Homo sapiens: one gene and its partners. The protein of the gene in region 1 interacts with the protein of each later gene in a pairwise test. Each region holds a gene or a part of one and is shown in the gene's direction. Other genes may lie near its edges. The genes, in order: CENATAC, ZNF114, NDOR1 and PPIL3.

Region 1 (7,022 bases):
TTCTAGTCGGGTGGGATGAGAGACGGAGAAAAGAAATAAGACACAGAGACAAAGTATAAAGAAACAACGGTGGGTCCAGGGGACTGGTGCTCAGCACACCAAGGACCTGCACCGGCACCGGCCTCTGAGTTCCCTCAGTTTTTATTGATTATTATTTTTCATTATTTCAGCAAAAAGGAATGTAGTAGGACAGCAGGGTGATAATAAGGAGAAGGTCAACAAATTACATGTGAGCAAAAGAATGTATATCACGATTAAGTTCAAGGGAAAGTACTATGCCTGGACGTGCACGTAGGCCAGACTTATGTTTCTCTCCACCCAAACATCTCAGTGGAGTAAAGACTACAAGGCAGTATCACTGTAAACATGTCTCGCCTCCCGCCACAGGGCAGCTTTTCTCCCATCTCAGAGTTGAACAAATGTACAATCGGGTTTTAAGCCGAGACATTCAGTTCCCAGGGGCAAGCAGGAGATAGTGGCCTTCCTCCATCTCACCTGCAAGAGGCTTTCCTCTTTTACTAATCCACCTCAGCACAGACCCTTTACAGGTGTCGGGCTGGGAGACAGTCAGGTCTTTCTCATCCCACGAGGCCATATTTCAGACTATCACATGGAGAGAAACCTTGGACAATACCCCGCTTTCAAGGGCAGAGGTCCCTGCGGCTTTCCACAGTGCATTGTGCCCCTGGTTTATTGAGACTAGAGAATGGCAATGACCTTTACCAGATGTACTGCTTGTAAGTATTTTGTTAACAAGGCACGTCCTACACAGCCCTAGGTCCCTTAAACCTTGATTTTATACAACACATGTTTTTGTGAGCTCCAAGTTGGGTCAAAGTGGCTGGGTCAAAGTGGCTGGGACAAAGCTACAAATCAACAACATCTCAGCAAAGCAACTGTTTAAAGTACAGGTCTTTTTCAAAATGGAGTCTCTTATGTCTTTCCTTCCTACATAGACACAGTGACAGTCTGATCTTTCTTTCTTTTCCCTACAACTTATTATTATTTTTGAGACAGAGTCTTGCTCTGTCACTGGCCTGGAGTGCAGTGGCCCGATCTCGGCTCACTGCAACCTCCACCTCCGAGGTTCAAGCAATTCTCGTCTCAGCCTCCCAAGTAGCTGGGATTACAGGCACCTGCCACCACATCTGGCTAATTTTTTGTGTTTTTGTAGAGACAGGGTTTCACTATGTTGGCCAGGCTGGTCTTGAACTCCTGGCCTCTTGATCCACCCGTCTCGGCCTCCCAAAGTGCTGGGATTACAGGCGTGGGCCACACCGCGCCTGGCTTAAATGATTTTTTAAAACTAAGTGGCTTAATATTCTGCAATTTTAATCTGAGAGGGGTGGAACAGAAAGCCCCATACCTCATCAGAACCTGGGAGTTGATGAGAAACCATTTGATGACAACCTCCTAGGGGAGATGGGGAGGGAAGTGGGAGATGGCCTCATAGCAGCTTCTGGCAGACCTTCCACCCTCGTGTTCCAGGAGGATTAAACAAGCCTTTCAGCCACAATTCGGTAAGGTGTGGCTCAAGCCATTGTCTCCTTGGATATATTCAAGGCTCTCAGGGAACACTGTTGATAGTGGTATTGGTATTATACTGAAACTTTGTGTTGAGAACCAGGGTTTTGAGAACCAGGGTTTTCACTATGGCAAAAGGAAGATACAAGTAAGGAATGGAGGCATTTGAATAGGGAGGTGACAGTACAAATTACTGATTTAAGGCCAGGCATAGTGGCTGATGCCTGTAATCCCAGTTCTTTGGGAGGCCAAGGCAGGAGAATTGCTTGAGCCCAGGAGTTCGAGACCAGCATGGGTGACATGGCAAAACCCTGTTTCTACAAAAAACACAAAAATTAGCCAGGCATAGTGGTGCTGTCCTGTAGTCCTACCTACTCAGGAAGCTAAGGCAGGAGGATCTCTTGAGCCTGGGAGCCTCTTGAGCAGAGGTTGCAGCGAGCTGAGGTTGTGCCACTGCACTCCAGCCTAGGCAACAGAGCGAGCCCGTCTCAAAAAAAAGACAAAGAAATTTAGGACAGTATGCAAGATTTGGCCTGGATTCTTCTGAGGATGTGAAGTAATGGAAACAGTAAGACTGTTCCAGACTAGGGGAAGACTAGAGACCTAATAGCTGGATTCCATGTGATCTTTTGTTGGACTTTGGGATTGGAGGTGAGAGTAGAGAAGGCATAATGCACGTTTTTGAGACGAGGGAAATGTGAATATAGCCTGTATGCCTACACTCAAGTCTGAAGACATGTAAACCATGTCTATACTAACCAGCCAAATATTTGAACACTAAAAGGAAGAATTTTCTTAATGTGGTAATGGTATCATGGTTGTATAGAATGTTCCTCCTCTTGGGAGATGTGTGTTGAAAATAGGGTTTGACGTCTAAACCTATTTTGTTTTGGCAAAAAGGACGTGTGTCTGTACAAAAGAAGTGGAGCCAGTATGGCAAAATGTTTACAAGGACTCTGGGTGAGAGGTACATAGGTGCTTACTATACTGTTTTGTTTCTGAATTTGGAATTTCTCAAAATTAAAAAAATATCTACTGAGGAGCTTTTCGTTTTAACTGGTGGGGAATGGGTTCTGGGTGGTTTTGCCCCTTTTCTTTTTAGATTCAAGAAATCCATGGTGAAAGGTTTGGATTCCTATGAAGAAAAGGAGGATAAAGTGATCAAGGAGGTAAGTTAAAGTAGCAGTCCCTCACCCTTTTTGCACCAGGGGCTGGTTTCGTGGAAGACGGTTTTTCCACAGATGGACCCAGGCAGGGGATGGTTTCAGAATGAGACTGCTCCACCTCAGATCATCAGGCACTAGATTCTCATAAGGAGCACGCAACCTAGATACCTTGCATGCCCAGTTCACAATAGTGTTTGTGCTCCTATGAGAATGTAACACCACCACTGATCTGACAGGAGCTCAGGCGGCAGTGCTGTTGCAGCCTGCTTCCTGACAGGCCACAGACCAGTACTGGTCCACGCCTGGGGGTGGAGGGCCCAAGTTAAAGGAAAGGCCTCTGAAGAAACTGGCCCCCATGATCCTGTACCTGTCTAAGCAGCCTCTCTCCCACAGATGGCAGCTCAGATCCGTGAGGTGGAGCAGAGCCGACAGGAGGTGGTTCGGTCTGTCTTAGAGGTTGGTTTCCCTCGGAGGATCCAGACCAGTATCCAAATCCACTGATCCCTGGCATTCCCAGGTCCAGCATTTCATGGACTAGTGCTTCTTCTTCTTCTTTTTTTTTTGGAGACAGAGTTTCGCTGTGTCACCCAGGCTGGAGTGCAGTGGCACGATCTCGGCTCACTGCAACCTCCACCTCCCAGGTTCAGGTTCAAGCGATTCTCCTGCCTCAGGCTCCCGAGTAGCTGGGATTACAGGTGCCGCCACCACGCCTGGCTAATTTTTATATTTTTAATAGAGGTGGTGTTTCACCATGTTGGCCAGGCTGGTCTTGAACTCCTGACCTCAGGTGATCCACCCGCCTCAGCCTGCTGGAATTACAAGCATGAGCCACTGTGCCCGGCCATGAACCAGTGCTTCTAAGAGAACTCTGACTGCATTCTCATCTGCTTGGCTTGAATTCCCTTACCTGTGTGCCAGGGGGCAGGCCTAGTCAGTGAATATGTGGACAGGACTGGGAGGGAGGGAGGGAAGAGTCTGTAAAAGATGGGCAGTACCTTCCATATGCTAATTTGTTTCCTTCCTGTGATACTGGGGTCTGGAGGGTGGAGGCATGGCCTAGGCAGGCTCTTAAGCATCCCAGACACATTTATTTTTCCTGAATCAAACTCAGCCTCAGGCAGTGCCAGACCCAGAAGAGGGCTCTTCAGCACCTAGAAGCTGGAAAGGGATGAACAGGTAAGACTATTAGGGAATCTCTTGTTGGGAATTTGACATCTTAGAACATTCTGCAACCTTTTGCCTGGGAAATGGAAACAGATCTAATCTTTACCACCCTCATGGCTCAAGGACCTCATCTGGCAGCCTGGCTCATGTTTTTCAGCCAAGTAGCTTCCAGCTTACAGCAGCCCTCAAATTTGGACCTGCCACCAGCTCCAGAGCTTGACTGGATGGAGACAGGACCATCTCTGACATTCATTGGCCATCAGGTACAAAGGATAAGCAAGCCAGAAGAGGGCCAATGGTCCCTCAGGTCTCAGGACCCCTTTCTCCTGATTTTCTACCTATTCAAGCCACTGCTGCCTCCACTGCAGGCTTTTCCTTCTTCCTTCACTGTTCCCTAGTAGTGTTCTCAGACCTCTTCTCACCCTCCAAAGCGATCCTATTCACATGTATTGACACTTAGGAGTGCCAACTCCTAAATCTTGCCCTCTGTAGAACTCATAGTTCCAACTCAACACAGGACATTAAATATCCCACAGGCATCTGAAACTAACCCCCACCACTCCTATATTTCCAATCACTAGATGCAGATCCTTTCCTTTTCCATCTCCCATATCCTGTCAACAAGCGGTCAATTTTAACCTGTCTGCCTCCATTCAGCCTTTGGGCAATTTCTACTCCCCCTTCAATCCTGCCTCACAAACAGAAAATCATTGTACCACTTATGATTTTACTCTACACTTCAGCTGTATTGTGTTGCTTCGGGCTTTTGCAGTTGCCATTGTCTAAAACCTGCTTTCCTTCCCTCATCACCTAGTTTACCTTCAACTGTTAGCTCAAATGTCACTTTTTCATAAAAGGCTTATCTGAACAGGTTATCTCTATTTCAAGTGGATGTAGCACCATGTAAAGTTGCAAATGTAATTTACGTAACTTGTGCTTAATGCTCTTCCCCAATTATATGTATGCTGTGAGGGCAAGGTTTTGCTCCCCTGGCATGTAATAGCCACTCTACTTACAGACATCTCCACTGTTATGACTGTGAGCTTCCTGAGGACAGGGTTGTCTTAGAGTGACTTACTGTGCTTTCAAAGTTTAACATCAGCTGGGGTGCAGAATTAGCATTGTGGCAGCAGTCACACCCACCTCTTTTAAAGTGTGCTTTGTCTATCGTTTCTAGGATTTTTTTTTTTAATCATGCCTAGACTTTAACTAGCACTTTTTTTCCCATTTCCAACTACAGGATATACCAGGAGTTGGTAACATCCACTCAGGTAAGGTCCAGGGCAGTGTTTTTAAAACCCTGGGAGATTTTTTTTTTTTTTTGAGATGGAGTCTTGTTCTGTCGCCAGGCTGGAGTGCAGTGGCGCAATCTCAGCTCGCTGCAACCTCTGCCTCTCAGGTTCAAGTGATTCTTCTGCCTCAGCCTCCCAAGTAGCTGGGGTTACAGGTGTGCACCACCACACCCAGCTAATTTTTTTTTTTTTTTTTTTGAGACGGAGTCTCGCTCTGTCGCCCAGGCTGGAGTGCAGTGGCGGGATCTCGGCTCACTGCAAGCTCCGCCTCCCGGGTTCACGCCATTCTCCTGCCTCAGCCTCCCAAGTAGCTGGGACTACAGGCGCCCGCCACTACGCCCAGCTAATTTTTTGTATTTTCAGTAGAGACGGGGTTTCACCGTTTTAGCCGGGATGGTCTCGATCTCCTGACCTCGTGATCCACCCGCCTCGGCCTCCCAAAGTGCTGGGATTACAGGCATGAGCCACCGTGCCCGGACTTTTTTTTTTTTTTTAAATAAAGTTGGCCAAGATAAAGCGTATGTATCGGTAAAAGCCTTATATCCAGAATATATGAAGAACTGTCAACTTGATAAGGAAACAACCCAATAAAAGCATATGAATAATGTTCAACATTAGTCATTAGAGAAATGCAAATTAAAACCACAGTGAAATACCACTACATATGTATTGGAATGGCAGAAATTAAAGACTGATCATGCCAAGTGTTTGGCAGTGTAGAAAAACCAAACCTTCATACACTGCTCTTAGAATGTAAACTGGTACAGTCACTTTGGAAAACAGTTTGGGATACACCTACCACATTATCCAACCGTTCCACCCCTAACTAGAGAAAAGAAAGCCTGTCTACATAGACTTGTACACAAATCTTCAGAACAGCTTCACTTGTAGCAGCTCCAAATTGGAAACAATTCAGATGTCTATCAACAGGCAAATGGATTAACAATGGAATAGTATTCCAGGATGAAGACAGAATTATTGATACGTACGACACAGATGAATCTCAGAAGTCCAGACCTGGCCGGCGTGGTGGCTCATGCCTGTAATCCCGACACTTTGGGAGGCCAAGGCAGGCGGATCACGAGGTCAGGAGTTCAAGACCAGTTTGGCCAACATGGTGAAACCCCATCTCTACTAAAAATTCAAAAATTAGCTGGGCATCGCAGCGCACGCCTGTAATCCCAGCTACTTGGGAGGCTGAGGCAGAATTGTTTGAACCGAGACCTGGGAGGCGGAGGTTGCAGTGAGCTGAGATTGTGTCCAGCCTGGGCTAGAGCGAGACTCCTCTCAAAAAAACAAAAGGCCAGACCCCACCTCAATGTCCACACACAGAAAATCCTAAAAAATACAAACCAATAAAGCAACTGAAAGATCACCGATTGCCTGGACATGAAAATATTTTAATGGGGGCAGTGATACTTACAGGGGGATGTTTGGGGTCTAGATTGTAATGGCTTCGCTCAAAAGTCACCAAATTTAAGTGTGTATCGTTTATGTCAGTTGTGCCTCAAAGCCATTTTAAAATGACTGTCACATATGGGGTATGTCGCTTTAAATTAGCCTAGGGCCTTCTAAAGCTCCAGAATTCCTGGGCTTTGCTTTTAGACATTTCTAGCTCTTAATGAGGAGAGGTAAGCTAACAGCTAGGACATGTTTCACAATAGCCTGAAGACTTAAAAAAAAAAAAAAAAGCCTTAATTTTTTTTTCAGGTGCCACACCTCCCTGGATGATCCAAGATGAAGAATACATTGCTGGGAACCAAGAAATAGGACCATCCTATGAAGAATTTCTTAAAGAAAGTAAGTAAACTAATTCAAGAGAGGATCGTCTAAATCTTCACACTCAAAAATGGTTTCCTTGCCTGTGTGTGGTGGC
Region 2 (7,730 bases), on another chromosome or scaffold:
CTGAGACCTACCGGGCTGCATTCCCAAATGATGAAGGCATTCTAAGTCACAGGATGAGATAGGAGGTCGGCACAAGATACAGGTCATAAAGACCTTGCTGATAAAACAGGTTGCAGTAAAGGAGCCGGCCAAAACCCACCAAAACCAGGATGGCGACGAGAGTGACCTCTGGTGGTCCTCATTGCTACACTCCCACCAGCTCCATCACAGTTTACAGATGCCATGGCAACGTCAGGAAGTTACCCTATGTGGACCAAAAAGGGAAGGCATGAATAATCCACCCCTTGGTTACCATATCATGAAGAAATAACCATAAAAACAGGCAACCAAGGCCGGGCACAGTGGCTCACGCTGGTAATCCCAGCACTTTGGGACGCTGAGGCGGGCAGATCACCTGAGGTCAGGAGTTCGAGATCACCCTGGCCAGTATGGTGAAACCACGTCTCTACTGAAAATACAAAAAAAATTAGCAGGGCCTGGTGGTGGGCACCTGTAATCCCAGCTACTCGGGAGGCTGAGGCAGGAGAATGGTGTGAACCCAGGAGGCGGAGGTTGCAGTTTGCCGAGATCACGCCATTGCACTCCAACCTAGGCAACAGGAGCGAAACTCCGTCTCAAAAAAGAAAGAAAGAAAGAAAGAAAAACATGTTAAATGACAACACAAGGATCTAATTGGCAAAACTGAAACCAAAGAAAATTTTACAGAAAAAATGACCTACTTTCTACAACAATAGCAATGTTTGAATGGGGGGATGGAATTAAATAAGTGGCAACTTAGATTAACAAAGAATTAACACACACACACAAAAACCTATTATAGTGGATGATTTGTATCTCTATGCAAAGCAATAAAGTAAAAATAAGAACCAGGGAAATGACAACATTAACGGGATATTTTATGATGTCCTGAATGATGATTACTTTTCATTGTAAGGGAGTATTCATGTAAGACAGTAAAGCATTTTTTAACTCTTCATCTTTTAAACATACATAGTGATATTTTTATTTTTTATTTTTTATTTATTGATACAGAGTCTCACTCTGTCACCCAGAGTGGAGTGCAGTGGCAAGATCTCAGCTCACTACAACCTCCACCTCCTGAGCTCAAGTGATCCTCCCGCCTCAGCCTCCCAAGTAGCTGAAGTAGCTGGGACTACGTGCACCACACGCCTGACTAATTTTTTTTTTTTTTTTTTTAGAGACAGGGTTTTGCCATTTTGCCCAGGGTGGTCTCGAACTCCTGAGCTCAGGCAATCCACCCACTTCGGCCTCTCAAAGCATGAACCACTGTACCTGGCCATCGTAGTGATATTTTTACAGGTGAAATAATATAATGTTCCCAATTTTCTTTAAAAAGATCCACCTAGCAGTGAAGGCATAGGTGAAACGGGATATTGAGGATACCAGAAAAGAAGCAGGTTTTTTTGTGGTTTTTTGTGGGTTTTTTTTTTTTTTTTTTTTTTGAGACAGAGTCTCGCTCTGTCACCCAGGCTGGAGTGCAGTGGCGCAATCTTGGCTCACTGCAACCTCCGCCTCCTGGCTTCCAGCGATTCTCCTGCCTCAGCCTCCCAAGTAGCTGGGATTACAGGCGTCCACCACACCCAGCTAATTTTTGTATTTTTAGTAGAGACTGGGTTTCACCATGTTGGCCAAGCTGGTCTCGAACTCCTGATCTCGTGATCCGCCCGCCTCAGGCTCCCAAAGTGCTGGGATTACAGGCGTGAGCCACCGCCCCTGGCCAAGAAGCAGGTTTTTGAAGGGAGAGGATGAGAAAACAAGGGAAGGGAAGCACTGCTGGAGATGAAGACCCAGAGAAAATAGAAGGGAATTGGACACCTACAACCACTAGAGGTCGCAAGAGGAATATCCTTTAGTGCCCTGAGCCCAGACCTGAACCAAGGTTTAACAGGGTTCTTCTCAAGTCCTTGGACTCCTTCGGTCATAATTTGGGAGCCTCCAAAAAGGAGAGCCTGAAATGAGGGCTTACGTGCAGGTAGTTTATTTGGGGAAGAGGTCAGAAATTTTCTTTTTTTTTTTTATGGAGTTCCGCTCTTGTTGCCCAGGCTGGAGTGCAATGGCACACTCGGCTCACCGCAACCTCCGCCTCCCAGGTTCAAGCGATTCTCCTGCCTCAGCCTCCCGAGTAGCTGGAATTACAGGCATGCGCCACCACGCCCGGCTAATTTTGTATTTTTAGTAGAGACGGGGTATCTCCATTTTGGTCAGGCTGGTCTTGAACTCCTGACCTCAGGTGATCCGCCCACCTCAGCCTCCCAAAGTGCTGAGATTACAGGTGTGAGCCAACGCCCCCAGCCCGAGGTCAGAAATTTTCTTATGTCACATTGTACTTTTTTTTTTTTTTTTTTTTTTTTGAGACAGAGTCTCACTCTGTTGCCCAGGCTGGAGTGCAGTGGCACGATCTCGGCTCACTGCAACCTCTCCCCGTCAGGTTCAAACAATTCTCCCGCCTCAGCCTCCCGAGTACCTGGGACTACAGGCATGCACTACCATGCCTGGCTCATTTTTGTATTTTTAGTAGAGACGGGGTTTCACCATGTTGGCCAGGCTGGTGTTGAACTCCTGACCGCAGGTGATCCGCCCGCCTCAGCTTCCCAAAGTGCTGGGATTACAGGTGTGAGCCACCATGCCCAGCCATACATTTTACTTTTGAACACTACATACCGTGGAATACTTTTCAGACTTTAAAAGGAATGAAATACTGATACATGCTTCACCGTAGGTGAACTTGGAAAACATTGTGCAAAATTAAATACGTCAGACACAAAAAGGCAAAGGCCGAGTGATTCCACTTCTAGGAGATTCCTAGAACAGTCAAATTCCTGGACACAGAAAGTAGAACAGAGCTTACCAGGGACTGAGAGAAAAAGGGAATGGGGTGTGATTATTTAACGGGTACGGAGTTTTAATTGGGAAAGATGACAAAGTTCTGGAGATGAATCGTGATGATGGTTACACAGCGATGTGGCTGTACTTAATGCCACTGAAGTGTACACTTTAAAATGGTTCACATGGAGGCCGGGCACGGTGGCTCATGTCTGTAATCCCAGCACTTTGGGAGGCCGAGGTGGGTGGATCACGAGGTCAGGAGATCGAGACCATCCTGGCTAACATGGTGAAACCCCATCTCTACTAAAAATACAAAAAAAATAGCTGGGCGTGGCAGATGCCTGTAGTCCCAGCTACTCAGGAGGCTGAGGCAGGAGAATGGCGTGAACCCGGGAGGCAGAGCTTGCAGTGAGCCAAGATCGTGCCACTGCACCTCAGCCTGGGTGACAGAGGGAGAGTCCGTCACAAAAAAAAAAAAAAAAATGGTTCACATGGAAATGTTTGTGATGTATATTTTATCACCGTAAAAAAATGTAACTGGGGTAAGTATGATCAATATTTGGCAATTTAAGCTTTATGGTAGAATTTCATTACTAGAGTGAAGAAAGACAGTCCATAAAAAATAAATTATTTAGGCCGGGGTGCAGTGGCTCATGCCTGTAATCCCAGCACTTCGGGAGGCCGAGGCAGGTGGATCACCTGAGGTTGCGAGTTCGAGGCCAGCCTGACCAACATGGAGAAACCCCGTCTCTACTAAAGACACAAAACTTAGCCAGGCATGGTGACGTGTGCCTGTAATCCCAGCTACTCGGGAGGCTGAGGTGGGAGAATTGCTTGAACCCGGGAGGCAGAGGTTGTGGTGAGCTGAGATTGCGCCATCGCACTCCAGCCTGGGCAACAAGAGCGAAACTCCGTCTCAAAATAAATAAATAAATAAATTATTTAATTGACCAGATAGGGACTCCCAGCCCTTCCTTCCTGGGGAGCTCCAGGAGCTGGCTGGGCTGGGCTTAATCTTTCCTCCCAAAGAACCAAAAGAAAAAGAGATGCACATCAAGGTTTGCTGGGGACCCTCAAAGGAAAAGAAACGATGTAACTCGAGTAGAGGATAAACGCTTTGTTCAGCTGATTTGCATCAGGGGCACCTGAAGATCAAGCGACTCCCCAGTTAAGCAGAGTCAGGGTGGGAAACTGAGTCTGTGTCCTAGAGGTCTGGGTTTAGGCAGTCATTTTGGGTTTTGTTTTGTTTTGTTTGTTTTGAAACGGAGTCTTGCTCTGTCACCCAGGCTGGAGTGCAATGGCGCTATCTCAGCTCACTGCAACCTCCTCCTCCCAGGTTCAAACGATTCTCCTGCCTCAGCCTCCCGAGCAGCTGGGATTACAGGTATGCACCACCATGCCCAGCTCGTTTTTGTATTTTTAGTAGAGACAGGGTTTCGCCATGTTGGCCTTGAACTCCTCGCCTCAGGTGATCTGCCCACCTCAGCCTCCCAAGGCCAGAGGATCACTTTAAGCCCAGTGTCAGGCCTCTGAGCCGAAGCTCAGCCATTGTAACCCCTGTGACCTACACATATACGTCCAGATGGCCTGCAGGAGCCAAGAAGTCTGGAGCAGCCGAAAAACCACAAAAGAAGTGAAACAGCCAGTTCCTGCCTTAACTGATTAACCCACCTTATGACATTCCACCATTATGACTTGTTCCTGCCCTGCCCCAACTGATCAGTCGACCCTGTGACATTCTTCTCCTGGACAATGAGTCCCATGATCTCTCCACAATGCACCTTGTGAGCCCCTCCCCTGCTGACAACAAATAACCACCTTTAACTGTAACTTTCCACTGCCTACCCCAGCCCTATAAAGCTGCCCCTCTCCTATCTCCCTTCGCTGACTCTCTTTTCCAACTCAGCCCACTTGCACCCAAGTGAATAAACAGCCTTTGTTGCTTACACAAAGCCTGTTTAGGTGGTCTTCTATACGGACACGCGTGACACCCAGGAGTTCGAGACGAGTCTGGGCAGCATAGTGAGTTTTCATCTCTAAAAAAAAAAAAAATTAAAATTAGCCAGGCATGCCTTGTACGTGCCTGTGGTCCCAGCTACTTGGGAGACTGAAGTGGTAGGATCGCTTGAGGCTGCAGTGAGCCAAGATTGCGCCACTGCACTCCAGCCTGAAGGACAGAGCAAGAACTTGTCTCAGAAAAAAAAAAAGAAAAAAAGAATAAGAAAAGGAAAAAAATAAAAAAGGAAGGAAGGGAGGGAGGGAGGGGCAGAGAGGGAGAGAGGAAGGGGGGAAGGAAGGAAAGAAAGAAAGAAAGAGAAAGGGAGGGAGAGAGAGAAAGGAAAGAAGGGAGGGAGGGAAGAAAGAGAAAGAAAAAAGAAAGAAGAAAGAAAGAAAGAGAAGAAAGAAGGGAGGGAGGAAGGGAGGGAGGGAGAAAAGGAGGAAGGGAGAGAGAGAAAGAAAAAGAAGAAAGAAAGAGAAAAAAGGAAGGAAGGAGGGAGGGAGAGGAAAAGAAAGAAAGAGAAGAAAGAAAGAGAAAAAAGGGAAAGAAAGAAAAGAGAAAAAAGAGAAAGAAAGAAAGAAAGAAAGAAAAGAAAAGAAGGGCCGGGCGCGGTGGCTCACGCCTGTAATCTCAGCACTTTGGGAGGCCGAGGCGGGCGGATCACGAGGTCAGGAGATCGCTGAAACCCTGTCTTTACTAAAAATACAAAAACTTAGCCAGGGTGGTGGCGGGCGCCTGTAGTCCCAGCTACTCGGAGGCTGAGGCGAGAGAATGGCATGAACCCGGGAGGCGGAGGTTGCAGTGAACCGAGATCGCGCCACTGCACTCCAGCCTGGGCGACAGAGCGAGACTCCGTCTCAAAAAAAAAAAAGAAAGAAAGAAAAGAAAGGAAGGAAGGAAGAAAAAAATCATTTCAAGGGTAGGCGACGGGAGCCTTGCGGTTTAGCCGCTAGTCAACGGATGGGGGGGAGTGGTAGCAAAAACATAAAAATGGGGACAAGAGAGAAACTGGAGACTCCCCAACCTGTCTGTTTCCGCCCTTTTACAGTACTGAGGGGAAAAAAAAGCCTTCTTTCCTTGGGAAATGCAGGAAGCCAGCAAGCGGCCGGAGTCTCCGGAGCCCGCAAGGAGGCGCGTTGGCTGCGCAGAGAGCGCGCTTCCCAGCTGGAGAGCCTAGGAACGGTGGCGCGGGCGGAGGCGACAGCGAGGACCCAAGGCTGGGGTTTCCTGCTTGGATCAGGAGTGCCTGGGGAGTAAGTTCTACAGGAAATGTCAATCTACTGGTCGTGGGGGTCAGACTCTGGGGTCGGGTCGATCGGGTCCCGGGGGCGGGGGGTGGGACGGGGGTGGGCAGGCAGGAGTGCGGGCGCTGGGATCCCCTGCCTGCTCGGCTCCCCTCTCCTCCCCCTGGTCCCTTACACCGTCCATTTTGAGGAAGGGGTCAAGAAGCGAGTACAAAATGTCTGGGCAGGACGAATCTCTGTAGTCGGTCCTTCCTGGCGGCCTCGTTAGGTTGATTTATTTCAACAGTTTGATCCCCATCCTGGTGCAGCTCCGAGACGCTCCTGGGCTGCGCGCGCTTTTGGGCTGCGCCACCGACAGAGACATCTGGAAGCCGGAGCTAGTGGAAGAGTAAGTGTGCCTGAGTGTCCGTACTAAGGGCGGGACCGGGCCGGGGCCCAGGGACTTGAGAGTTGCTGTCTGCAAAAGCCTCATTGTCTCTACCCTTCCGGGAGGAAAGGGGAAGGCACGAATGACCCACGTGTTCAGACCCCGAGCGCGCCCTTCACCTTGGCCCAGGGAGAAGGGCGCTTCCCCCATACCGTGCTGCAGCGTTGCGAAAGCGCCTGTCCCCGGGCTTGGGCAGCAGAGATGCCCGCATGCAGCGGTTGCAGGGGTTGTGTTCTTTGCATCCATGAAAGTATTGGAGCTGGCCGGGCGCGGTGGCTCACGCCTGTAATCCCAGCATTTTCGAAGGCCGAGGTGGGCGGATCACCTGAGGTCAGGAGTTCGAGACCAGCCTGGCCAACATGGTGAAACCCCCATCTCCACTAAAAATACCAAAATTAGCTGGCCGTGGTGGCATGCGCCTGTAATCCCAGCTACTCAGGAGGCTGAGGCAGTAGAATCGCTTGAACCCGGGAGGTGGAGGTTGCAGTGAGCCGAAATCGAGCCATTGCACTCCAGCCTGGGCGACAGAGGGAGACTCTGTCTCAAAAAAAAAAATAAATAATAATAATAATAATAATTAGCCGGGCATGGTGGCGGGCGCCTGTGATCCTAGCTACACGGGAGGCTGAGGCAGGAGAATCGCTTGAACCTGGGAGGTGGAGATTGCAGTGAGCCGAGCGCCTGTAATCCTAGCTACTTGGGAGGCTGAGGCAGGAGAATCGCTTCTACCTGGGAGGTGAAGGTTGCAGTGAGCCGAGATCGTGCCACTGCACTCTAGCCTGGGCGACAGAGCAAGACTCTCTCTCAAAAAAAAAAAAAAAAAAAAAAAAAGTATTGGATTGGAGCCTGTTGTGATGAGGGTGAACTGAAAAGTCCTGGGCAGGGCCAGACGTGCAGGATGCACTGGTTTCTTACGAGAAAGAGCTTTTTTTTTTTTTTTTTTTTTGAGAGGGAGTCTCGCTCTGTCACCCAGGCTGGAGCGCTGTGGCGCGATCTCTGCTCACTGCAAGCTCCGCCTCCCGGGTTCACGCCATTCTCCTGCCTCAGCCTCTCAAGTAGCTGGGACTACAGGCGCCCGCCACCGCGCCCGGCTAATTTTTTGTATTTTTAGTAGAGACGGGGTTTCACCGCGTTAGCCAGGATGGTCTCGAGCTCCTGACCTCGTGATCTGCCCGCCTCGGCCTCCCAAAGGGCTGGGATTACAGGCGTGAGC
Region 3 (7,022 bases), on another chromosome or scaffold:
GGTGCAGTGGCTCATGCCTGTGATCACAGTTACTCCAGAGGCTGAGGCGGGAGGAGCTCTTGAACTTGGGAGGTTAAAGCTGCAGTGAGCTGTGATCACACCACTACACTCCAGCCTGGGCGACAGAGCAAGACCCTGTCTCAAAAAAAAAAAGACGGGAGAAACTTGACATGTTTTTTTTGTTGTTGTTTGTTGTTGTTGTTGTTGGTTTGTTTTGAGACGGAGTCTCGCTCTGTCGCCCAGGCTGGAGTACAGTGGCGTTGATCCCAGCTCACTGCAAGCACTGCCTCCCGGGTTCGCGCCATTCTCCCGCCTCAGCCTCCCAAGTAGATGGGACTACAGGCGCCGCCACCACGCCCAGCTAATTTTTTGTATTTTTTTAGTAGAGATCGGGTTTCACCGTGTTAGCCAGGATGATCTCAATCTCCTGACCTCGTGATCCACCTGCCTCAGCCTCCCAAAGTGGTGGGATTACAGGCGTGAGCCACCACACCCGGCCAAAACTTGGCATGTTTAATTGCTGGCAGGGGAGAGACAGGAGAAAGAGGCTGAAGACTGAGTAGGTATGGCAGGGGATGTGCAGCGGCTTGGGGGAGAGCTGAACATAGGTCGAGGGGTCTCAGATAGAGTGGGATGGAAGAGAAGGGGTTTCAGAGTGGAGCACAGGCACGGGAGGGGAATGGTGGGATAGGGAAGCCCCAGAGCATGGGAGAGGAGAGGGACTGAGGCTGGGCTGGGCATTCAGTCAGCCAGTGGCAGGAAGCTGGTGCTAATGCCGGGATTCAGGTCAACGAGGAAACGAAGAGTCCCAAGTGTGGGCACCCACAGAGAAGACCAGGAGTTGGAGGGGGCAGCTAATGCCCACAGCGGGAACTGGGAGCTCCTTGAAGAGGCTGTGGACCCAGGGCCCATGGCCTCAGAGGCAGGGGCGAGTCTTAGTGGCTATCCATAGCTAAACCAGAGGACCCTGGCTCTCCATCCACAGCGAAACAGGAAGACCCTGGCTCCTTGCTGAGGATGCTGTAGGTGAGGCAGGTGCCCCCAGCAGCAGACAGGAGAAAACAGAGGAACCACAGTGAAAGGCCAAGTGACCAGGTCCCTGCCTGTCTGGTGAAGAAACCCATGGGGCGCTGGGCGCGCTGGCCCAAGCCTGTAATCCCAACACTTTGGGAGGCCGAGGCGGGTGGATCACCTGAGGTCAGGAGTTTGAGACCAGCCTGGCCAACATGACGAAACCCCATCTCTACTAAAAATACAAAAAATTAGCTGGGTGTATTGGTGCATGCCTGTAATCTCAGCTACTCAGGAGGCTGAGGCAGGAGAATCACTTGAACCCAGGAAGTGGAGGTTGCAGTGAGCCGAGATCACACCACTGCACTCCAGCCTGGGTGAAAACATGCACCAGAAAGAACCACACCCCACCCGAGGAAAGACCCGCATAACAGGCAGAGACGGGCACAGGCTGAAGCAGCCAAGGATGTTACCCCCACGGGGCAAAGCTGGAGACTCAGGAACAGGAAACAGTTTTTTCTCTTTCTCTTTTTCTTTTTCTTTCTGGAGACAGAGCTCTTGCTCTGTTGCCCAGGCTGGAGTGCAGTGGCAGCCATCAACGGCTCACTGCCCCCTGACCTTCCAGACTCAGGTGATCCTCCCACCTCAGCCTCCTGGGTAGCAGGGACTGCAGGTGCGCACCACCACATGCAACTAATTTTTTTTTTTTTTTGTATTTTTTGTAGAGATGGGGTCTCAAGCTTCTGGGCTCAAGCAGTCTGCCTGCCTCATCCTCCCAAAGTGCTAGGTTTGCAGGTGTGAGCCACCACACCTGGCCAGAAATAGTTCTTTAAATGGACATGAAAAAACTTTAAAAGATTAGAAGACGCTGGGCACAGTGGCTCAAGCCTGGAATCCCAGCGCTTTGAGAAGCCAAGGTGTGGGAGGATCGCTTGAGCCCAGGAGTTTGAGACCAGCCTGGGCAACATGACGAAACCCAGTCTCTACAAACAAAATAATAATAAATTAGCTGGGCGTGGTGACACACACCTGTAATCCCCACTACTTGGGAGGCTGAGGTTGGAGGATCGCTTGAGCCCAGAAGGTCAAGGCTGCAGTGAGCTGTGATTTCAAGACTGCATTCCAGCTTGGATGACAGAATGAGACCCTGTCTCAACAACAAAAAAGGCCGGGCACGACGGCTCACGCCTGTAATACCAACACTTTGGGAGGCCGAGGTGGGTGGGTCACTTGAGGTTAGGAGTTCGAGACCAGCTTGGCCAACATGGTGAAACCCTGTCTCTACTAAAAATACAAAAATTAGCCGGGCATGGTGGCACGCACCTGTAATCCCAGCTACTTGGGAGGCTGAGGCAGGAGAATCACTTGAACCTGGGAGGCGGAGGTTGCGGTGAGCTGAGGTCGCACCATTGCACTCCAGCCTGGGCTACAGAGTGAGACTCCATCTCAAAAAAAGATGAGAAATCCTTCTAGAAAGTATGACAAAAAGCAAGATAGAAAATGGAAGGAAGCAGATACCAAAATTCGAAGATAATTCCAGTGGCCTCAGAATGAGAAGACAATGGTGGAGAGGAAGTTATCCAGGAAAGTAATGATGTCTAGAGCGGGGTCTGCGGCCAGAGAGCCCCATGCCCAGGAAGGGCCCTGCTGAGAATGAAAGGGCTACCCCCGGGGCATGTCACTGTGGGTTTAGCCTCTGGGGACAGAGTGCCCTACACACCCCAAGGGCAGCAAGTGGGGCCCTGGCTTTTCAGTGGTGGTGCCAAGCCCAGGACAGACCCAGCCGCATGCCAGTCGAGTGAGGGAAAAGTCACAAGAATGTTCTCTCCAGAACCCTTTTCTCGGGAAGGAGGAAGTTCACCAAACGGAGCAGGGAAGAGAGTCTTTTGGGATTCAGGAAGCAAGGGTGTCTCAACAGCAGGGCGCTAGGGAGGGTCTCGGGGGCAAGAGGCTGGGTACATTTGCTCGCATAGCGTGGCCCAGAGAGGCAGCTGATGAGGCAGTGAGGTCCCGGGAGGCCAGGGGTGGTCCAGGGCCAGGGTCAGAGCTGTGGGCTGACAAGGCCAGGGCCTCCCTGTCTGCTAGCCTCCATGCTTGGCCACGGGAAGGGGAGGTGGGTGGGCGGCGAAGACCACGCACACAGGCCACCTGGGATCCAGGTAGGGAGGGGGCAGTAGGTTCCTTGGGGGGGCCTCTGATCAAGCTGGGAGGACACCGTGGAAGGCACGGTGTGGAACCAGAGGATCTGGACCCTGTTGGCTCGAGGTCCTGCAGCCACGGAAGGAGGGGGATGTGTCTCAGCGACACTGGAACCTCAGAGGGCCGAGTGTGAGAGCCCTTGGGATGGACCTCAGAGGTCTGAGTATAGGAGCCTCTGGGACAGACCAACTCAGGGAGTGGAGGCCCACGCTCTGGCTGGGAAATGACAGGTGGAGGTGAGGGACCCCTGGGGCGGTGGACAGTTTGGAGACCAAGTGCAGAGCTGCTCCTGGCAGCTCAGAGCCTGGGGCAGAGGAGGGTGATGTCCCAGGAAGGAAGCTCCACGCAGGCCTGTAGAGCACAGCAGGGTCTGGCTCCTGTGGGCAGGGTGGGACCTGGTCTCCCTAGACGCTGGACCAGCCCTGCCTCCTCCCGGTGCCCATCATCCTGCAGGCTGGACCTGGGCCCTGCCTTTTGGTCAGATAGGTCCAGTTGTATTCTGCCCCCATCCTACCCACCTGCCTGTTCCCCTGAGACCCTCCCCTCACCCCCTGCTGTGGGGCTAGCCTAGAGGTCGAGGACTCTGACTCAGAGTTTCCTCCGGCTGTAGAACTTCTGGAGGTTTATATTCCGGAAGAACCTGCCCTCCACTGCCCTCTGTCAGATGGACTTTGCCGTCCTGGGCCTCGGGGACTCCTCATACGCCAAGTGAGTAGGGGATGGGACAGTGGGCGGACGGAACAGTTCTGGGGGTCGAGCAACAGGTGTGCTGGCAGAGGACCGAGACCAGCTTCCAGGGTCGGCCCCTGCGCGCCTCAGGGCCCTCGCAGTGGTACTGGCTTCTCCACAACGCTCCCTGGTGGGCACCCCAGGCTTCACGCTGCGGGGAGGGCACAGAGGGGAGCAGGCAGGGTGGCAAAGGGCTGGGCTCCAGCCACGCTGACGTCACACAGGCCTACCTGGCGCCGGTCCCCACTTTTACAAAAAGGCGTGCTGTGAAGTGTTGACGACTTTGAGCCTGGAGGAGGACCCCGTATGCTCCTGCCACCCCAGAGGCCACCTCTGCCTTTTCTCCTGGGCATTTTCACAGTGCTCCTCTGCACCCTAAGCAAGGAGTGGCATGTTCAGTGTGCAAATGGCATCTTTAGACCCCACAACGGTGAAAACCCCGACTGTCCACGTAGGGCCCAGGTCCGCTGAGCACCGAGCATCAAAAGCCGTTTGCATAGCCAGGTGTCAGTCATTTCAGATGAAAAAGAACGGGAAGATCGGAGACAGCTCCCCCCGGTTCTGCCGGGAGGTTTTGTTCCGTGCGTGACGTAGGTCCGTGCATGACGTTGTTTCCTGCGTGACGTTGTTCTGTGTGGGACACAGTGTTCGTTCAAGAGAGGGAGGGAGGCCGCTGCCGACAGCGTTCCCAGGGAGGAGCGTGACCCAGAGCCAGTCATGCCTCGGAACCAGAGTGAGAAGAGAAACTGACCCCCGGGAAGATGCCTGGCTCTCTCCCCAGCACAGAGTTTCTCAGCTGAGGAGTGACCCACATCTTGGCTGGGGGCCTGGAGGCCTCAGCTGCCTCAAGTCCCTGCCCAGGGATGAGGGCCCATCAGTGGGACGAGGCCGCCTGCTCCCACCCACACAGGCTCATTCTCTGCGAGCAGAGGACCTGCTGCTTGGCACCCTGGCAGCTGCCCTGGTCTCGGCAGCCCCTGGCGTGTGGAGGCCCTGCCCCCTCCTAGGGTGCGGCCAGCGTGGAGTGTGTTTTCCACCCGAGGGAGGCCCTCCCCAGGCTCCACTCTTCGCCCGGGCTCCACTCTCCCGGGTTCCACTCTGCCTGGGCACCACTCTCCGCCCGGGCTCCAGCCCAGGACCAGCCTCACTGTCTCCACAGGTTCAACTTCGTGGCCAAGAAGCTGCACCGACGGCTACTGCAGCTTGGGGGCAGCGCCCTCCTGCCCGTGTGCCTGGGCGATGACCAGCATGAGCTGGGGTGAGTCTGCGGGCGTGGTACCCGCCTCCACAGTCTGGTCTGGCCACACGCAGGGTCCGCTCAGGCCAGCGCACGTGCTCCCTCCCAGGCCCGACGCTGCTGTGGACCCCTGGCTGCGAGACTTGTGGGACAGGGTTCTGGGGCTGTACCCGCCGCCTCCGGGCCTCACTGAGATCCCTCCCGGAGTCCCGTGAGTGTGGGCCCCGGGTCACCCACAGGCGCAGCAGACCCAACCTGGCCTGGGGACCTCGCCCTGGGTCCCTCCCGTGTGGGTGGGCGGCCCCTGGGGAGTGGGTCCTGGTCTGACCAGCGTGCCCTCCCACAGCCTGCCCTCCAAGTTCACCCTGCTGTTCCTCCAAGAGGCACCCAGCACGGGCTCTGAGGGGCAGCGGGTAGCTCACCCCGGCTCTCAGGAGCCCCCGTCAGAGTCGAAGCCCTTCCTAGCACCCATGATCTCCAACCAGAGAGTCACCGGCCCCTCCCACTTCCAGGACGTTCGGCTGATTGAGTTTGACATCTTGGGCTCTGGCATCAGGTGGGGACTGCTGGGGACCGAGGAGGGCAAGGTGAGGTGGGCCGTGGGTCTGGGGTTCGGAGGAGGCTGGGCCGGGCTGCAGGGGATGACTTCTATCCGGGGCCCCGACATCCTCCCTGCGGCGTCCCCACAGCCCTGGTGGCTTCTTCCACACAGCTTTGCTGCTGGTGATGTGGTGCTGATTCAGCCCTCCAACTCGGCTGCCCATGTCCAGCGGTTCTGCCAGGTGCTGGGCCTGGACCCTGACCAGCTCTTCATGCTGCAGCCGCGGGAGCCAGGTGAGCCCAGCCTCGGCCACCCTGACTCTCTGCCCTCTCCCGTGCCCTGGGCCCCCACCCCAAGGGCTCCGCCGCAGCCCACGGAGGCCTCCCACTCACCCTGCAGATGTCTCCTCCCCCACGAGGCTGCCCCAGCCCTGCTCCATGCGGCACCTCGTGTCCCACTACCTGGACATCGCCAGCGTGCCTCGCCGCTCCTTCTTCGAACTCCTGGCCTGTCTATCCCTCCATGAGCTGGAGCGGGAGAAGCTGCTGGAGTTCAGTTCTGCCCAAGGCCAGGAGGAGCTCTTTGAATACTGCAACCGGCCCCGCAGGACCATCCTGGAGGTGAGATGGGAGGGCGGCAGGCCCAGCCCCTGAGCTACAGCCACGCTGCAGCCACCCTGAGACTCTCTTTGCCTAGGTGCTCTGTGACTTCCCGCACACAGCTGCCGCCATCCCTCCCGACTACCTGTTGGACCTCATCCCCGTTATCCGGCCGAGGGCCTTCTCCATCGCCTCCTCGCTGCTGGTGAGGGGCCTGGTGGTTGGAGCCCAGGACCGGCCCTGGGAAAGCTGGGACCGGGGCTGTGGGGTTTTGTAAGCAGGGGCTGCCCTCTGACCAGGTGACGTTCCCCCAGTCGGACTGCCTCTGCGGGAGGTAGGTGGGGCCCACGGCCCAGGCACAGGTGAGGGCAGCCTTGTTCCACCACCCCCACCCCGCCGTCCTCCCCAGACTCACCCCTCACGGCTGCAGATCCTCGTGGCTGTAGTGCAGTTCCAGACTCGCCTCAAGGAGCCCCGCCGGGGCCTCTGCTCCTCCTGGCTGGCATCCCTGGACCCTGGGCAAGGTGACCCCTGCTCCCAGGGTGGGGGCCGTGGGCCCATATCCCCTTCTCTCCCATGCTCATGCAAATGCTGGGCTAGGGCCCCAGCAGACTCAGCACAGGTCTTTGATCCTCTTCATGCCACCTCCTTCCTGCAATAGGACCTGTCCGGGTGCCCCTCTGGGTGCGGCCTGGGAGTCTGGCCT
Region 4 (7,022 bases), on another chromosome or scaffold:
TTGTGGATATGTATTGACTCTTCATATATTCTGGCCCAGGAATTCCATTCCCAAATGTTTACTCAAGAGAAACTTGTAAGTTTGCACCAAGAGACATGTACAGGAGTGTTCTGATGTACTGTTTGTAATAGCAAAAGTCTAGAAACAACCCAAATGTCCACTGATTGTAGATGAATCACTATGTAGATTGTGGATAAATTGTAGTATATTCAGTAGTGAAATATCACATAGTAGTAAAAAAATAGTAATAAACTATGGCTATATGTACATGTATAACCTTAGAAATGTAACAATGTTATTTGTAGAAAGCATTTCCCAGAAGACTAAAATGTTACGATGTAATTATATTCAGAAGGAAAAGGAAAGAATGTGTTGTTTAGGCATGTGTAAATGTGTTAGGGCTGGGCACAGTGGCTCACTCTTATAATCCCAGCACTTTAGGGGGCCGAGGTGAGAGGAACAAGTACTTGAGGCCAGGAGTTTGAGATCAGCCTGAGCAACATATTGAGCCCTCATCTCTACTAAAAGTTAAAAAATTAGCCAGGTATGGAGGTGTACATCTGTAGTCTCAGCTACTCAGGAGGCCAAGGTGGAAGGATTGCTCAAGCCTAGGAGGTCAAGGCTACAGTGAGCTATGATTGCACCACTGCACTCTAACCTGGGTGACAGAGTGAGACCCTGTCTCTAAAAAAAAAAAAAAATGAAAAAATGAAAAAAAAAAGGTATTAGAATAGTGGTTACCTCTTGTAGAGGCTGAGGTAATAAATGGAGAGGAGCACATGGATATATGTAATTAATTGGTAACTTTTATTTTTTCTTGAGCTCCCATTATTCAATGAATTGGTAAATTTTAACTCTGAAAGCTGGGAAATATGTTAATGGGTGCTTATTTTATTAACTTACATTTTTATTAACTATATTTTTGTGTATGTATTAAATATTGTGTATGTATTAAATATTACATGTGTATTTAATATTACATTTGATTGGTGGACACCTTTTAGGGAGACAAGCATTAATATTTTGATATAGGTGCTTCTCTATGACTTATTAGCGTCACCCAATGAATAGCTAAAGCTAGAGTAATTGGTGGAGTTGTAGTGTATTACAGGCACCTCCCTGTAACATAGTTCACAGTTACATCTTCATTCTTATCAGTAAGGTCCTTTTAATTTCTATACACTGTCTCTTGTAAACAAATACTATCATGATAGTAGAGCTAGGTGAGACCTTTCTTAGATCGTTCAGTCCTGGGGTTATAAACTGACTGCCCATGAGTGGAACACCCACAGATGCATTATCTGTGGCCCTTAGTTAAAAAATATATATTTAATGTCATTAATCAAGAGATAGCCTATTCATTTTGCCAGACTTCATCTCTCTCTAATGTTTACATTCTGCCCAATTGTCAGTTTATCTGCTTGACCCTTGTGAGCATCTGAGTTATAAATAGACCCTTGAACTAGTCCAGCCTCCCTTGTTTTACAGATAAAGAAACTAGCAAGAGTCCATTGTATGTGAGAAGAGATTGTGGGCATTTTGGTTTTGTTGCCTGCCTGATCATTTCATTCCAGCACACTATTCCTTAATATAAATGTAAGGATTATTTCTATTATTTGTTGGTATTGCAAAAAGTGTCCATGGCTGTATTTCTTCAAAGTGAAAATGAAATTAATTGAGAAATATTATTTGATATATTAACCTTTTACATACAAGTTTTCAAAGGTACAGAAAAGGCAGAAACTGAACATTTGGATTATCCCTAATAGAGAGAAGTTGGTTAAATGTTTTCTTGCTCCCTTAAATATTGTGAAGGTAAAGATTGAATGTCTTGGCTGGGTGTGCTGATTCACACCTGTAATCCCAACACTTTGGAAGCTAAGGCAGGAGGATCACTTGAGCCTAGGAGTTAGAGACCAGCCTGAGCAACATAGTGAGACCCCAATCTCAAAATATTTTTAAAAAAGAAAACAAAGGTGTGCCTGTCTTGTTTCAATACTATATTTGGGATGGTTATATAAAAACACAGTTAATACTTTGATGTGTCTTTTTCAGCACAATGTTAGAGGTGTTGTATCTATGGCTAATAATGGCCCGAACACCAATGGATCTCAGTTCTTCATCACCTATGGCAAACAGCCACATTTGGACATGAAATACACCGTATTTGGAAAGTGAGTATTCTGGTTATGGTTTTCTTTTAGCATTTCAATGCAAGTGGTGCATATGCTTAGCTGTGACAGTAGCATAACTAATATTGAAAAGAGTGAGGCCGAGCGCAGTGCCTCACACCTGTAATCCCAGCACTTTGGGAGGCCAAGGTGGGCAGATTGTCTGAGGTCAGGAGTTCGAGACCAGCCTGGCCAATGTGGCAGAACCCCTGTCTCTACTAAAAATATTTTAAAAAATTAGTTGGATGTGGTGGCACACACCTGTAGTCCCAGCTACTCAGGAGGCTGAAGCAGGAGAATTGCTTGAACCTGGGAGGCGGAAGTTACAGTGAGCCGTGATCATGCCATTGCACTCCAGCCTGGGCGACAGAGTGAGACTCTGCCTCAAAAAAAAAAAAAAAAAATGAAAAGAAAAGAAAGAAAAGAAGAGTGGTGTGAGAGCTAAACGTACCTGGAGTTTAAGTCTACCACTTAGCAACCCTGTGACCTTGGGAAAGTTATAATCTCCCTGAGCTTTATTTTCCTTATTTTGTAAAAGAGGCCAGTAATTTTTCAATATTGTTATGCAAATTAACATAGTATATCTATTTTCTTTTTCTTTTTCTTTTTTTGAGACGAAAGGCTCTGTCGCCAGGCTGGAGTATGGTGCAGTAGCACAGTCATGGCTCATTGCAGCCTCAACCTCCTGGTCTCAAGTGATCTTCTCACCTCAGCCTCTTGAGTAACTGGAACCACAAATGTGTACCATCATGCGCAGCTACTTTAAAAAAAAAAAAAACAAAAAAAACACTTTTTTTTTAGAGACATGGTCTCACTATGTTGCCCAGGCTGGTCCATTTTCATTAATGATAGCATTTCACAGCAACTAACAGATCTGAAAAATAGTGGCTTAAACAAGATGGACTGGCATGGTGGTTCCATTTTGTTACCAGTGTTCTAGGCGCCTCTGTCATAATATTGGCAGCACAGCTCTTATCAAAACTTCTGTGTATCAGGGAGGAAAGGGGAGGAAAGACAAAAGGTGCTTGCCAGCTGATTCACCTTTTTTAATTAACAGAACTTTCCCAGGCCTGTAATCCCAGTGCTTTGGGAGGCTGAGACAGGAGGATCACTTGAGGCCAGGAGTTCAAGACCAGCCTGTGGAACATAGCAGAACCCATCTCTATAAAAAAAATTTAAAAATTAGCCAAGTGTGGTGACACACACCTGTAATCCCAACTACTCAGGAGGCTGAGGTGGGAGAATCACTTGAGCCCAGGAGTTCCAGGCTGCATGAGCTGAGATCACACTTCTGTACTCCAGCCTGGGCAACAATGATACCCTATCTCTAAAAAAAAAAAGATAGAAAAAAAGAAAAGCCGGGTGCGGTGGCTCACACCTGTAATCCCAGCACTTTGGGAGGCCAAGGAGGGCAGATCATGAGGTCAGGAGATCAAGACCATCCAGGCCAACATGGTGAAACCCCATCTCTACTAAAAATACAAAAATTAGCTGGGTGCGGTGGTGCGTGCCTGTAATTCCAGCTACTCAGGAAGCTGAGGCAGGAGAATGGCTTGAACCCTGGAGGTGGAGATTGCAGTGAGCCAAGATTGCGCCACTGCACTCCAGCCTGGTGACAAAGCGAGACTCCGTCTCAAAAAAAAAAAACTTTCCCAGAAGACCCAGAACTTAGTAATGTGACCACTCCTTACCTACAATGGAGGGTAGAAAATGTATTTCAGCCACATTGCCACCCTTACTAAAATTAGATTTCTCCGAGTAAGAAGAATGGCTCCTAGGAAGGTATTTCACAGTTTCTGCCAGGGTATCTATTAAGAGTACTATGTCTGGGAGTTGCTTTTATAAATCAGTGGGAAGTCAATTTGTCTGTTCGTTCAACAAATAATTATCATGCTTAATAAACCAAGGCACAATTCTAGAGTTTGTTCTATTTAATAGTTTGGATGCCAAATTAGGTTAATTAAAAATAGAGGACTCCCAGTCTAGGTAACATAGTGAAACCCCGTCTCTACAAAAAAATTTAAAAATTATCCAGGTGTGGTGGCTCACACCTATGGTCCCAGCTACTTGGGAGGCTGAAGTGAGAGGATTGCTGGGCTCAGGGTGTCAAGGCTGCAGTGAGATCTAGACAGATCTTTTCTTTTTCATTCCATATACATGTATCTAATTTACACATTAATAATAATCAAGGAGAAAAGAAATATTACAACATCTAGTAGTTTTTTTATGTTTGTAAATAACCCAGTTTCCCTCTTATTTTCTCCCTTAACCAACATCATTCAAAATTATTGTTCAGTTATTACCAGGACTCATTTTACTGGATTTGCGACAAAACTGTAGAGTTTAGAACAAAGATTAACCTTAGGTTCATTAATTCCTTGTTTGTTGTATACAGATGCACACACATTTTTCTGGGAAGATGATCCAGTAACTTTCCTCTAGTTCTCCAAGGGGTCCGTTTCCCATATACTTGACTCTACTTAACTGCCTCAGTTCTACCTGCTGGGTTTTTTTAACTTTTTACCTGAGACCTATGTTTTCTACCTCCTCTGTTTCTCTTACTGACCTAGAAGGTGGGATAGCCTTTAAGACTTATAATTTAAAGACTTAAATGTCTATATTTAGGGGTAAAATCAAAATGTTTTGGTTGAAGTACCCATTTTGTGAAAATGCAAAATAAAATGCAAATCTGCTAATTTTTTTTTTTTTTTTTTTTTGAGACAGAGTCTCACTCTGTCGCCCAGGCTGGAATGCAGTGGCGCCATCTCAGCTCACTGCAAGCTCACCCTCCTGGGTTCACGCCATTCTCCTGCCTCAGCCTCCCAAGTAGCTGGGACTACAGGCGCCCGCCACCGCGCCCGGCTAATTTTTTGTATTTTTAGTAGAGACGGGGTTTCACCATGTTAGCCAGGATGGTCTCAATCTCCCGACCTCGTGATCCGCCCGCCTTGGCCTCCCAAAGTGCTGAGATTACAGGCGTGAGCCACTGCGCCAGGCCTACAAATCTGTTAATTTTTTAAAGTACATACCAGTGGTTGAGAATCCCTAATCTGAAAATTAAAAATTAGGAACTTTTTGAGCACTGACATGATGCCACAAGTAGAAAATTCCACATCTGACCTCATGTGACGGGTTGCAGTCAAAATGCAGTCAGATGACCAGGTGCAGTGACTCACGCTTGTAATCCTAGCACTTTGGGAGGCCAAGGCGGGCAGATCACGAGGTCAAGAGATCAAAAGCCACTCTTTCTTAGCAAATGTTTTAGACTGAAATTTCCAAAACTTGTATTTGAAGAATAGCTCTCAATATATTTTTTCTTGGTGGTAACATGAAGTGGGATTGCTGGAGGCTGTTAACTGTCAGTCTTCTCTTCTCCTATTTTTATTACTTCTTGTTGTTATCCAGAAGCAAAAAGTAGAAATGCCATAATTAGGCCAGACGTGGTGGCTCATGCCTATAACCCCAGCACTTTGGGAGGCTGACGTGGGCAGATCACTTGAGGTCAAGAGTTTGAGACCAGCCTGGCCAATGTGGTGAAATCCCATCTCTACTAAAAACACAAAAATTAGCTGGGCATGGGGGCATGTGCCTGTAGTCCCAGCTGCTTGGGAGGCTGATGCAGAATTGCTTGAACCTGAAGGAAGAGGCTACAATGAGTCGAGATAGTGCTACTGCACTCCAACCTGGGCAATGGAAGTGAGACTCCATCTCAAAAAAAAAAAAAAAGAAAGAAATACTATAATTAAACAATTAACTGCTGGGCTTGGTGGCTCATGCCTGAATCCCAACACTTTGGGAGGCCAAGGCGGGCGGATCACCTGAGGTCAGGCCAGACCAGCCTGGCCAACATGCTGAAACTCCGTCTCTACTAAAAATACAAAAATTAGCCAGGCGTGGTGGTAGGCTCCTATAATCCCAGCTACTTGGGAGGCTGAGGCAGGAGAATTGCTTGAACCCAGGAGGAGAGGTTGCAGTGAGCCGAGATCACACCATTGCACTCCAGTCTGGGGGACCAGAGCGAGACTTCATCTCAAAAAAAAAAAAAACAAGTACAAAGTGGAGTGGTCACCTACTTTAGGACTCTCATTGTAGGGCAGTATTGCTAATAGTGTCATCTACATACTTTCTCCATGTATTTCCTGTAGCAAAGAAATCTTTATGACTAGTGTGTTGTAATAAGACATACATATTTGGACTTCATCCGTGGTTTCCAGCATAGTTCTTTTAAAAACCTTGCAATTTCCTGAGTGACAGGAGTGAAAGGAATATTTTATTGTTCATAATAAACCCCATTCAACCATACCTGAGTTTATGCTAATGAGGTGACTCTTGGTGGGGTTCTAGATAGCTTCAGTATGGAGGGCTGGTTGCCAGAGGAATCAGCCATGTATTTTTAGAGGGGTGGAACATTCAGTGACCTCCTATTCTTGACCTCTGGGAAGGAGAGAAGGGCTGGAGATTGAGTTCCAGTCACTAGTGGCCAGTGATTTAATTAATCGTGCCTACCTAATGTGCCCTCCGTAAAAACCCTAAACAGGGTTTGAGAGCTTCCAGGTTGGTGAACACAAGTAGATACTAAGAGGGTAACACACCCCGAGAAGAGCATGGAAGCGCTGTGCCCCTCTCTCAGACTTTGCCCTATGCATCTCCTCCATTTGGTTGTTCCTGAGTTGTAACCTTTATAATAGCCCATAGTAATAAATAAAGTGCTTTCCTAAGTTCTATGAGCCATTTTTGAAAATTATTGAACAGAGCTGGGGGGCATGAAAAATCCCAAATTATATCATGGTTAGTCAGATAGTACAGATCACAATCGGGACTTGGAACTGGCATCCGAAGTGGTAGGGGCTG

What was found.
Region 2: the proteins of CENATAC (region 1) and ZNF114 interact in binary tests that used the Homo sapiens proteins (3 or more experiments, as listed by UniProt).
Region 3: the proteins of CENATAC (region 1) and NDOR1 interact in binary tests that used the Homo sapiens proteins (3 or more experiments, as listed by UniProt).
Region 4: the proteins of CENATAC (region 1) and PPIL3 interact in binary tests that used the Homo sapiens proteins (3 or more experiments, as listed by UniProt).

Annotation. Positions count from the first base shown.
Region 1 is NC_000011.10:119,008,138-119,015,159, forward strand, and holds part of CENATAC (centrosomal AT-AC splicing factor), read left to right. Parts: intron 1-2,626; coding exon 2,627-2,693; intron 2,694-3,083; coding exon 3,084-3,146; exon of another isoform or gene 3,147-3,174; intron 3,175-3,801; coding exon 3,802-3,866; intron 3,867-4,011; coding exon 4,012-4,117; intron 4,118-5,094; coding exon 5,095-5,125; intron 5,126-6,856; coding exon 6,857-6,946; intron 6,947-7,022. UniProt on the Homo sapiens protein: Component of the minor spliceosome that promotes splicing of a specific, rare minor intron subtype. Negative regulator of centrosome duplication.
Region 2 is NC_000019.10:48,265,351-48,273,080, forward strand, and holds the start of ZNF114 (zinc finger protein 114), read left to right. Parts: upstream 1-4,730; 5' UTR 4,731-4,869; exon of another isoform or gene 4,870-4,883; intron 4,884-5,552; exon of another isoform or gene 5,553-5,765; intron 5,766-5,870; exon of another isoform or gene 5,871-5,894; 5' UTR 5,895-6,099; intron 6,100-6,265; exon of another isoform or gene 6,266-6,376; 5' UTR 6,377-6,478; exon of another isoform or gene 6,479-6,482; intron 6,483-7,730. UniProt on the Homo sapiens protein: May be involved in transcriptional regulation.
Region 3 is NC_000009.12:137,208,682-137,215,703, forward strand, and holds part of NDOR1 (NADPH-dependent diflavin oxidoreductase 1), read left to right. Parts: intron 1-3,820; coding exon 3,821-3,918; intron 3,919-5,098; coding exon 5,099-5,197; intron 5,198-5,285; coding exon 5,286-5,387; intron 5,388-5,522; coding exon 5,523-5,732; intron 5,733-5,888; coding exon 5,889-6,010; intron 6,011-6,116; coding exon 6,117-6,337; intron 6,338-6,413; coding exon 6,414-6,521; intron 6,522-6,725; coding exon 6,726-6,840; intron 6,841-6,977; coding exon 6,978-7,022. UniProt on the Homo sapiens protein: NADPH-dependent reductase which is a central component of the cytosolic iron-sulfur (Fe-S) protein assembly (CIA) machinery.
Region 4 is NC_000002.12:200,872,071-200,879,092, reverse strand, and holds part of PPIL3 (peptidyl-prolyl cis-trans isomerase-like 3), read left to right. Parts: intron 1-2,055; coding exon 2,056-2,174; intron 2,175-7,022. UniProt on the Homo sapiens protein: PPIases accelerate the folding of proteins. It catalyzes the cis-trans isomerization of proline imidic peptide bonds in oligopeptides. May be involved in pre-mRNA splicing.